3 linked regions of the Homo sapiens genome follow. The protein of the gene in region 1 interacts with the protein of each later gene in a pairwise test. Each region holds a gene or a part of one and is shown in the gene's direction. Other genes may lie near its edges. The genes, in order: SPDYA, AQP1 and CDK16.

Region 1 (3,729 bases):
AGACTGGTGCTGGTCTCGGACTCCTGACCTCAAGCAATCCTCCCACCTTGGCCTCCCAAAGTGGTGGGGTTACAGATGTAAATCACTGCACCTGGCCCAAATGCATTTTGACTTAATGATATCTTCAAGTTACAAGAGTTTATTGGGACATAACTCCATTGTAAGTCAAAAAGTCTCGATATATAAATTTTCTCTCTGCATCCAATGAATTACCAGCTTATCTGGTTGTTCTTTCATAATATTTTGTTTCTTTCTTTGTTTGTTTGAGATGGAGTTTTGCTTGTTGCCCAGGCTGGAGTGCAATGGTGCGATCTCAGCTCACTGCAACCTCCATCTCCTGGGTTCAGGCAATTCTTGTGCCTCAGCCTTCCCAGTAGCTGGGATTACAGGCATGCTCCACCATGCCCAGCTAGTTTTTGTATTTTTAGTAGAGACAGGGTTTCACCATGTTGGTCAGGCTGGTCTCGAACTCCTGACCTCAGGTGATCCACCTGTCTCAGCCTCCCAAAGTGCTGGGATTACAGGCGTGAGCCACCGCGCCCGACCTGTCTGCTCATTTTCTACGATTAATCACCTTATATATGTATTACTATGAAAGCTCTGATTTAACAGTTTTTTCCTCCAGTTAAATTCTCATAGACACCACTAACAGATTAACTTAAAATACCTTTTACATGACCATAGAAACTTCAGAAGTTCCCACTGCCTCTGAAAATATGAAGTTCAAAATGAAAGCCTCCCACAATCGCAGAACTATATACTATGTATACCTAAATTTCCCTCTAGAACAACCAAGTCAACAGATAAAACAATACATGACCCTTGGCTGGGCATGGTGGCTCACGCCTGTAATCCCAGCACTTTGGGAGGCTGAAGCGGGCAGATCACTTGAGGTCAGGAGCTCGAGACCAGCCTGGCCAACATGGTGAAACCCCATCTCTACTAAAAATAGAAAAATTAGCCAGGCGTGGTGGTGGTGCATGCCTGTAATTCCAGCTACTCCAGAGACTGAGGCAGGAGAATTGCTTGAACCTGGGAGGTGGAGGTTGCAGTGAGCTGAGACTGCACCACTGCACTCCAGCCTGGGTGACAGAGCTAGATGCCATCTCAAAAAACAAAAACAAAAACATGATCCAGTGTAGGTTTAAAGACATCAGGAAAGTTTTAGTGACTATTTACTGGGTATAAAAGGTAGGGCCTCTGGAAGGCATTGGGATGACAGTTTTCGGTCAGTCTCAAATCTTTAGTTTACAGGACAGCCAGACATAGACATAGAAGGCTAACATTAGAAGGTATCTGTCCCATAAACCAGACTGTAAACATACTTATTGTTTGGAGGAAGGCTGAAGAAAGAGCTTAAGCTGGGCCTTGATTGACTAGAATGGACAACTACCAAAGAAAAAGAAGAGAAATAGAAGAAAACTACACACACACACACACACACACACACACACACACACACACACACACACACAAAGGGAAGTGAGGGGAAATGAATGGATACTGTTAAAAAGGTCTTGTTCAATTCAACATCTACTGAGCACCATGTGCCAAACAGAAACAATGTATTCTCCATGAAACAGGAGCCAAGGGCAGAACTTTTCTTGGCTCTTAAGCCAGCCCCTTCTCAAAGTAGACAATTGGGGATTGACACAAAATAGGCATTCAAAGCATTAAATGAATAACATAATTTCATTACTAGCTAAATAGAAGGGTAGAAGAAAAGGGAGTATTCCATGATGGAATTAAAAAATGGACTTCAGGCCACGTGCAGTGGCTCATTCCTGTAATCCCAGCAGTTTGGGTGGCTGAGTCGGGTGGATCACCTGAGGTCAGGAGTTTGAGATCAGCCTGGCCAACATGGTGAAACCCTATCTCTACTAAAAATACAAAAATTAGCCAGGCGTGGGAGCGTGTGTCTGTAATCCCAGCTACTTGGGAGGCTAAGACAGGAGAATTGCTTGAACCTAGGAGGTGGAGGTTGCAGTGAGCCAAGACCATGCCATTGCACTCCAGTCTGGGCAACAGAGCGAGACTCTGTCTCAAAACAAACAAACAAACAAACAAACACTTCAGAGCTTCTATATAGTCATGCGCCACATAATGACATTTCACTCAAGGTGGGACTGCATACAGGATGGTGTTCCCCTAAGATTATAATGGCTGGGCATGGTGGCTCACACCTGTAATCCTAGAACTGTGGGAGGCCGAGGCAGGTGGATGGATCACTTAAGGTCAGGAGTTTGTGACCAGCCTGGCTAACATGGTGAAACCCTGTCTCTTAAAAAAATACAAAAATTAGCCGGGCGTGATGGCACATACCTGTAATCACAGGTACTCGGGAGGCTGAGACCGGGGAATTGCTTGAACCTGGGAGTTGGAGGTTGCAGTGAGCCAAGATCGTGTCACTGCACTCCAGCCTGGGCAACAGAGCAAGACTCTGTCTCAAAAAAAAAAAAGAAAAAGAAAAAGAAAAGAAAAGAAGAAGGATGGAAGGAAAGATTATAATGGAGCTGAAAAATTCCTATCACCTACTGACATCATAGACCTGTACTGCAACACAGTACCTTTTCTATGTTTAGATACACACATACTTACCATTGTCTTATAAATGCGAATGGTAGTTAGTACAGTAACATGCTATCCAGGTTTGCAGTCTAGAAGTAGTAGGCTATACCATATAACCTAGGTGTGTAGTAGGCTATACCACCTAGGTTTGTGTAAGTACACTATGTAATGTTCACACAATGATGAAACTGCCCAACTATGCATTTAACAGAATGTACTGCCACTGTTAAGCAATGTATAACTGTATCTGGAAATGTTATAAAAGCTATAAAGGCATCATTATTATATAAATGTTCAGCTAGTTACATACAGAAATATACCACCAGAATACTCTGCTCCTGATTCAATCACTTGTCTAAATGCAGCCAGAGTGATTTTCAAAACACAGATCTAAACATGTCACCCCTTACTTAAATTCTTCAATGGAATCCCATTTTTCTTAGGATACACCAATTCCTTCACGGGCATATGAGAACTTGCATGGCCTCATCCCCATCTATCTATCCAGTCTTTTCCACTCTACCCCAGCATCACTTTTTATTCCCATTTTCCCTGCTGTAGTTAATTCCTACTTAGCATTCAGTTCTCAGCTCAATTGTCACTTGCTAGGGCAAAGTCCCCCATTATGGTTACTCATAGTACCTTGTACTTCTTTGGGGGGAATTTATAACAGTTTTAGTTTTACATCTGTGTGATTAATGTCAAGCTCTATCATAGACTATAAACTCTAAAAAGGCAGAGATTTTACTTTAAAATGTCCTACGTTCTATAATATGTTATTTAATAAAAAATTTACACACATGTATAATTTTAAATACTTCTAGCCTAAGAGATAAATCTAGGAATGGTAGCATTTACCCTCCAAGGCATTACTATTTTACAGCCCATAAAACAGGCCGGGCATGGTGGCTCCACACCTATAATCCCAGCACTTTGGGAGGTCAAGGCAGAAGGACTGCTTGAGCTTCGGAGTTTGAGACCAGCCTGGGCAACATGACAAACCCCGTCTCTACCAAAAAATCCACAAAAATTGGCTGGGCGTGGTGGCATGTGCCTGTAGTCCAACTACATGGGAAGCTGAGGTGGGAGGCTTGCTTGATCCTGGGAGATTGAGGCTGCAATGAGCCATGATCACGCCACTGCACTCCAGCCTATGTGACA
Region 2 (3,729 bases), on another chromosome or scaffold:
AACAGAGAAAGATGTGGCAGGAAGTGGTTGGGGTGAGTCAGGGGGTGTCCCTTCGGGACATGCTGGGGACAACTTTCTCCTGACTGACTCAGGGCTCAGGATATGCCCTAGAGAGACCGTGGGCCTCCGTCCAGCCTGCAAGGTCCCGGCTAGTTCTAAGAGCCAAATACCAATTTTGGCTAAGGGTGAGAGGCTCTGAGGCTGGGGTGGACACTCTCACCTGTCCCTGTCCTAGCTCAGCCACTAACACCATGTGGCATCACACAACAGACTGGCCTGTGTGGCCCTAGTTCCTGTCTATGAGATAGGGACATAGCAGGGTGTGGCTGGGCTCTGAGAAGTAGGAGATGCTGGTGGACTCAGGATTCCTGGCATTTGCTGGCTTTTTTCATTCTTCTGCTGTCTGGTCTGCTCAGCCGGCTCCCTGCAAGCATGACCAGGGACTGCTGGGTGCTCAATGCAGGGCTGGGTTAGCCCGGCTCCCTCCCGAGAGAAGCCCACAGCCCTAGGTCAAGATAAGCCAGTGCCCAGCTGCCTGTGATATGAAGCAGGAGGCAGATGCGATAAGAGGTGTCAGGGCGGGCCCGGGAACTTTTGAACTTAAGGGGTGGGAGGGCCAGGAAGGCATCAGGGAGGAGGTTTCGTAGGAGCCTGAATGTGGAGACACTGCAGAGGGAAGGGGCAGAGGGACTGTGTGAGCAAGCACAGGCTAGGAGGAGGTGAGGGCCGTGGTACGGGAGTTGTTGGGTATGGTCAGGCTGGGGGTGCATGGGAGGAGGGTGGTGAGGGCTCAGGATTCGGGCCAGGGGCTGCATCCGGGGGAAGGGGTCTGGATTCCCAGAGCCTGTGATTTCAGCCCGCTGGGCTCAGGCAGAGGGCAAAGCTACCCTCTTCGGGGTCTTCTCCCAGCCCTGCTAATTCCAGGCCTGACTGCTCAAGAAGTGTTTCTACCTGCAGCATCAGGGGCCTGACTGAAGCCCTAAGTTCTCCCCTTTATCCCGTTTTTCTGGGCTTCAGTTTCCCCAGTCATAGAGTGAGAGGCCTCTTCATGCCACCAGTTCTCCCGGGGGTGCTGCTGCCTCCTCCAGAGCTCAGGGGAGGGATGGGGAAAGGAAGGCAGAGTTTCCATGTCCCTGCCCAGCCCGTCCTGCCCAGGGAGGGGCTGGGGGCTGGGTGGTGATGCCACATCTGGGACATATAATTACTGTTTCCGCCAGCCCCAGATGAGGGGGAGGGCACAGAGATGGGGAGCTTTGTGGTGGAGACTTCCCTCACCATGGAAAATCCTGACGCTGCTTCCCCTTTAGGGACCTCAGAACAGCCCAGCCGGTCCCAGTGTTGCCCACCCTGATGCTTGGCCCTGACTGGGATTTGCCCTGGGAACTCTGAAGGGGCCATGCTTTGAGAGGGGACACGGCCTCCTGGGATACCTGTCTGAGGGGCTCACCCCCTGCTCACCACTCCCAGGCCACAGCCTCCTGTCACACCTTGCCTTCCCTTCTCCACCCCAGGCAACCTTCTAGCAGCATGAAGTGGCCATTAGCTCACTGCAAGCCAATTCCAGATGGTACCCCCACTTAGTCTAGGGCCCCCACCCAGCAGGGGCCATGGCCCTTACCTTCTGGAAGCACCAATGAGTCTGGAGTCTCCTGAGTGGCTGGGATCTGAGCCCTCACACCGGGAGGTGAAGGCAGGAAAATGCTGTCCGCGAGGCCCTGCAAGTGGCCAGGATCCCCTCAGTCAGGGCTTCCCCATGGGGATGAGAGGGGCTCCTTGCCCACATGGAGTGGTGCCCAGGGGGATCATGAGGGGCTGTCTTCACTCAGCCAGGAGCTACAGTTCTGTGGGGTGGGCAGACTCTGAGGCTGAAATCTCCAACTTAAAAGATATCCGGAAAGGCCGGAAAATGCCCCCGGCCCTTCCAGCAGCTCCTTTCAGTGCCTGCAATCTCGCTGTCAGGGCCCCTTGAAAGGCAGATTTCTACTCAGTGTAAAGAAGGTTGTTGTTGATATTGTTGTTGACACGAAGAAGGGGCTGTCTCTAAGTCAATAAGCTCCCTGCCATTAGGGGTGTGCAAGTAGATGCTTTCTGGTGAGGAGGCTGCTTTGGGGGTGCTAGTCTATGCGGGGGTCCAGTGGGGTGGGTGACAGGTTCTGCAGCATAGGCTTTGTGTCATGCTGAGATCAGCAATTCTGATGGCCTGCGGGGGATCCTGTGCTTAGGTTTCTGGATCTGGGGCTGGAGAGTGACCACCCCGATGTGAGGCAGGAGGCACTTTTGGAGACTGCGGGGGCTCGAATCTGGGCCAAGGCCTCCATTTTACTGATGGGGAAACTGAAGCCCACAGAGGCGTGGAGACTTGTCAAGGTGGCACTGCCTCCTAGCCCTTGATTATTCCTGCTGCTCCAAAGTGTACACACATGGCACAAACACAAACATGCACACACATGTGCTCTTACGTGGAGGACACACACACATGGTACACAAAGCACATTCTCAAGACTGGGTGGTCCCACTCAGACTCTGGGACCCAAGGAGGGTTGGGCGGGGATTCCTCAATGGAGCCTTTTCCTCTCCCTGCCCTGGAGTTAGGAAAAGAAGGAGGGAGGGAGGGAGGAAGCCATTGCTTTGTGTATTGTTTCTTGTCAGGAAGATGAAATGGCTTCTGGGAGCAAATAAAGGCCTTGTTGAGACCTGCTGCTTTCTCACATGGGGGGCTCATTTTTTTCTCTTCTCTTCCCTCTCTAGCTGGTAGTGGCAGCTATGTGGGTGTGTGACACAGGGAGACAGTGAGGCACCCAGAAGTGCCATCAGACATACCAGTGCAAACACACAGCACAGCCTCCAGGACCTCATGTCCTGCAGGGATGCCTGTATGATATAGCTGTTCCCAGGGAGGCCGAGGCACTTGGTCAGTACCTCATCAGTTGATGAAAAAGAGTGTGCATTCTCTAATTCAGGGGTACAGGGTTTTCATATTTTTCTGAAGTCAAGCTTGTTAATTATGGGGTTCAAACCCTCCCTGATCATGTTATTGGTAGTTTTCGGCTGCTTCATTTATTCTGTACATTTCTAATAGAAGATTGTTAACATTTTTCACTCTGGTGGTAGGGTGATCCAGTCCTCCTTGTAATTTTGTCAATTTTCCCCTCATTTATTTTTAGGCTATGTTGTTTGGTGCATACAAGTGGGGGATTTTTGCAGTTCCTTTATAGATTTTTATTTTTTTTTTTGAGACGGAGTCTCACTCTGTCGCCCAGGCTGGAGTGCAGTGGCACCATCTCGGCTCACTGCAAGTTCTGCCTCCCGGGTTTATGCCATTCTCCCACCTCAGCCTCCCGAGTAGCTGGGACCACAGGCCACCACACCCGGCTAATTTTGTTTTTGTATTTTTAGTAGAGACGGGGTTTAACCGTGTTAGCCAGGATGGTCTCGATCTCCTGACCTTGTGATCCACCCGCCTTGGCTTCTCAGAGTGCTGGGATTACAGGCGTGAGCCACCGCGCCTGGCCAGTTCTTTTATAGATTTTTAAAATGTAATTATTGTGTAATAAACCACTTACAATCTAACAAAAAAGAGAAAGAGGGAGTCAGCCCTGGACACATGTGGTCATCACAGACACAGCAGACACTTATCTACAAAGACACACAGAGGCACACAAAACCAGGAATCCCCCCATGTCCACGTGTGAACACCCATGGAGGAGTGACACTCTGGAGCCCACATAG
Region 3 (3,500 bases), on another chromosome or scaffold:
TGGTTCTAAGACCCCCCAAAACACTCTGGCTTTCATGGGAATGCCTGTCACCCACATATCCAGGTAATAATCAGGGTAACCAGGAATCTGTTCCCATTTGGATAAAAGGTAGATGAATTGCAAACCAGGGTTTGGTTCTGAGAACACCCCTGAAAGTGCTCACCAGTTTATTTACTGTAACAATTTCTAGTCAGAATATCACATGGAATGAATTTGAATTGCACTGAAATTTAGTGTGCAAATTCGATTTCACGCGATGCTGCAGGCCTATGTACTGAGGGTTGGAGCCAGGCCCCTTCCCAGAAACCAAAAACAGGTTGTGAAAATCTAGTGTCACATGAGCCTGGGGCTGCAATCCCAGGTTCTTGCTCCATACTCTCCTCTGAGTCTTATTTTCCACATCTGCAACATGGAGACACAACTTTCTTCTGGCATGAGGCGGGTTAGAGCTGGTGGCTCCGAGGCATTACCCTGAACTGTCTAGAGAAAGAAAGAAAACCTGGGCTTGTCCCTTTCTAGTCCTTGTCCTCACCTCTGTCCTGAGGGTAGGACCCTGACTCTTCCCCTGTCCCACTCCCATGCTTCCTGCAGTGTCCCTGCTCAAGGACCTCAAACACGCCAACATCGTTACGCTACATGACATTATCCACACGGAGAAGTCCCTCACCCTTGTCTTTGAGTACCTGGTAAGGTTGAGTGGCAGTAGGTCCCAGGGGGAGGTGAGGAGAAGGCCAGGAGCCATAGGAAGTAACCCTCATTCCTGTACCACCTCTTCTTTCCTCAGGACAAGGACCTGAAGCAGTACCTGGATGACTGTGGGAACATCATCAACATGCACAACGTGAAAGTGGGTGTGGGGCAGGAAGCAGGGGCACAAGGGGGCCCCCACTCACCCACTCCAACCCACAAATCTCCCAGAAACGGACTTTTCCCTTTGGCTTTTTTTGCTAGGAGCCCTTGGAGGGCACTGGGACCCTGTCCTCTTTTGTGTGACAAGGCTCTGGGCCTAGTGTCTGTGTTTGGGAGGGGAGCAGTGCCTGCTGGGGGTCGGGCTAGTGGATAGTCTTTGACCTCTGCCTGCCATTCCTGGGTCCCCAGCTGTTCCTGTTCCAGCTGCTCCGTGGCCTGGCCTACTGCCACCGGCAGAAGGTGCTACACCGAGACCTCAAGCCCCAGAACCTGCTCATCAACGAGAGGGGAGAGCTCAAGCTGGCTGACTTTGGTACCACTGGCCTCCCCTTTCTTATTGGCTCCCCAGCCTCCTACTTTCCCATGACCACTTAGTCTCACTTCCCTTCAGCCTTGCCAGATTTTGCCTAGGACACCCTCAGTCTCAACTGCACTCTCCCCGAGACTTTGCCCATGACTCCCTCATTCTAGCTGTCCTTTCTCTGATTTCCAGGCCTGGCCCGAGCCAAGTCAATCCCAACAAAGACATACTCCAATGAGGTGGTGACACTGTGGTACCGGCCCCCTGACATCCTGCTTGGGTCCACGGACTACTCCACTCAGATTGACATGTGGTAAGGACAGGTGGAAGTGTGGCAGGGGCCATGTGGTAAAGGGGGTGGCTTGGTCACAACAGCCACCCAGCCAGCTGCCTTTCTATTCACTGTGCCCTCCCTGCCCAGGGGTGTGGGCTGCATCTTCTATGAGATGGCCACAGGCCGTCCCCTCTTTCCGGGCTCCACGGTGGAGGAACAGCTACACTTCATCTTCCGTATCTTAGGTGAGGAGGCATGGGCCCTAGGCGCTGTGGAGACACACGGGGAGGACCTGTGAAATGTTTGGGATAACTCCTCTTCCCTACTAGGAACCCCAACTGAGGAGACGTGGCCAGGCATCCTGTCCAACGAGGAGTTCAAGACATACAACTACCCCAAGTACCGAGCCGAGGCCCTTTTGAGCCACGCACCCCGGTGAGGCTGGTGGGTGGGTGGGCGTTAGGGGCCAGAGTGTCCAAACTCATTTTAAATCAGGTCTCTTTGTCCTTGTGGCAGACTTGATAGCGACGGGGCCGACCTCCTCACCAAGCTGTTGCAGGTGAGACCACCTTGGGTCAGCCTTGGGGGTATGGGATTCCAAGTGTGGGGAAACAGGGACCCCCCCCCTCAAACCAGGGGCAGGGTCTGAGGTGGGCAGAGAGACCTACTTGTTGAAGATATCAATACTATCCCCCTCCCCGCACCCCCACTCAGTTTGAGGGTCGAAATCGGATCTCCGCAGAGGATGCCATGAAACATCCATTCTTCCTCAGTCTGGGGGAGCGGATCCACAAACTTCCTGACAGTGAGTGGAGCTGGGGAATGGACCGGCCAGCGTGGGGACTGGGAAACAGGACTGCTGGGGCCAGCTGGCGGGTTGTGTAGGATTCTGGCTGTGCCACCTCTACGTGGGGGGACATCTTGTTCACGTGTGTGATGGGTTGTATTTGTTATGAAAACATTTTTTAGTTTTCAGTTCCTTTTACCTTTCATGAAAAATTTAAAACATACATAAAAATATATGCAATAGCACTTTACTTTTTTTAAAGTAGACATTTCCTTACATGTGCTAAAAAATGCACAAATCATAAGTATACTATACAATGAATTTTCATAAATGAAACACATCCTTGTAACTAGCACAAAAGTCAAGAAACAGAATGTTAAAAGCTCCCCACCCCCAGCTCCCTTGCATCTCCTTCAGTTATTCCCAGCCCCTTCCCAAAGGGTGGCCACTGTTTTGACCTCTAACAGCAAGGATAAGTTTTTTCTGTCCTTGTACTTTATAGAAATAGAATCACATGTGATGTTCTTTTTATATCTGGCTTTTAAAAACTTTTTAATATGGATATTTTCAAATATATGTATTTATATATTAGTCAAAGTAATATGATGAGTCCCTAAGTACTCCAGTGAGTCATCAATTCATGGTCAATCTGGTTTTATCTATATTCTCTCTGATTATTTTGAATCACATCCAATCCCAGACATCATAGCATTTATCCTTAAATAATTTCAGCATATACCTATAAAAGATTTTTTTAAAACAACAATATTATTATCAAACCTACAAAAAACATTTGCTCACTTTCCCTATCTTCCCACTGGATTAATATATAAAGCAAACCCCAAACACCACCCATCACCTAGACTTAACAGGTGGTAATTGCAATACCATAATTCACTTGACAAAGTTAATAATGATTTCTTTGTGTCATGTAATAGTCTATATTTCATCTTCCCTGGTTGTAGCTGGTTTGTGTATGGAATTGTTTGACAGATAAAGGTCAAGCCTCTCAGAGAAGGGGCAGCTTTTTCTAATTCTTCCCATGGGGTCATATGGGGCTGGTCCTAGATGACCTCATGGGTCATCCCCCACTTCTATGTCTCCCCCATCTGTAGCTACTTCCATATTTGCACTAAAGGAGATTCAGCTACAAAAGGAGGCCAGCCTTCGGTCTTCGTCGATGCCTGACTCAGGTAGGTATAGCCCCTTGTCTTCCTCCCTGCCCCACC

The links.
Region 2: the proteins of SPDYA (region 1) and AQP1 interact in binary tests that used the Homo sapiens proteins (3 or more experiments, as listed by UniProt).
Region 3: the proteins of SPDYA (region 1) and CDK16 interact in a two-hybrid assay, tested with the Homo sapiens proteins (one study listed by IntAct).

The regions. Positions count from the first base shown.
Region 1 is NC_000002.12:28,845,299-28,849,027, forward strand, and holds part of SPDYA (speedy protein A), read left to right. Parts: intron 1-3,729. UniProt on the Homo sapiens protein: Regulates the G1/S phase transition of the cell cycle by binding and activating CDK1 and CDK2.
Region 2 is NC_000007.14:30,914,780-30,918,508, forward strand, and holds part of AQP1 (aquaporin-1), read left to right. Parts: intron 1-3,729. UniProt on the Homo sapiens protein: Forms a water channel that facilitates the transport of water across cell membranes, playing a crucial role in water homeostasis in various tissues.
Region 3 is NC_000023.11:47,225,181-47,228,680, forward strand, and holds part of CDK16 (cyclin-dependent kinase 16), read left to right. Parts: intron 1-591; coding exon 592-686; intron 687-784; coding exon 785-847; intron 848-1,098; coding exon 1,099-1,222; intron 1,223-1,402; coding exon 1,403-1,523; intron 1,524-1,631; coding exon 1,632-1,729; intron 1,730-1,813; coding exon 1,814-1,919; intron 1,920-2,000; coding exon 2,001-2,043; intron 2,044-2,198; coding exon 2,199-2,289; intron 2,290-3,386; coding exon 3,387-3,464; intron 3,465-3,500. UniProt on the Homo sapiens protein: Protein kinase that plays a role in vesicle-mediated transport processes and exocytosis. Regulates GH1 release by brain neurons. Phosphorylates NSF, and thereby regulates NSF oligomerization. Required for normal spermatogenesis.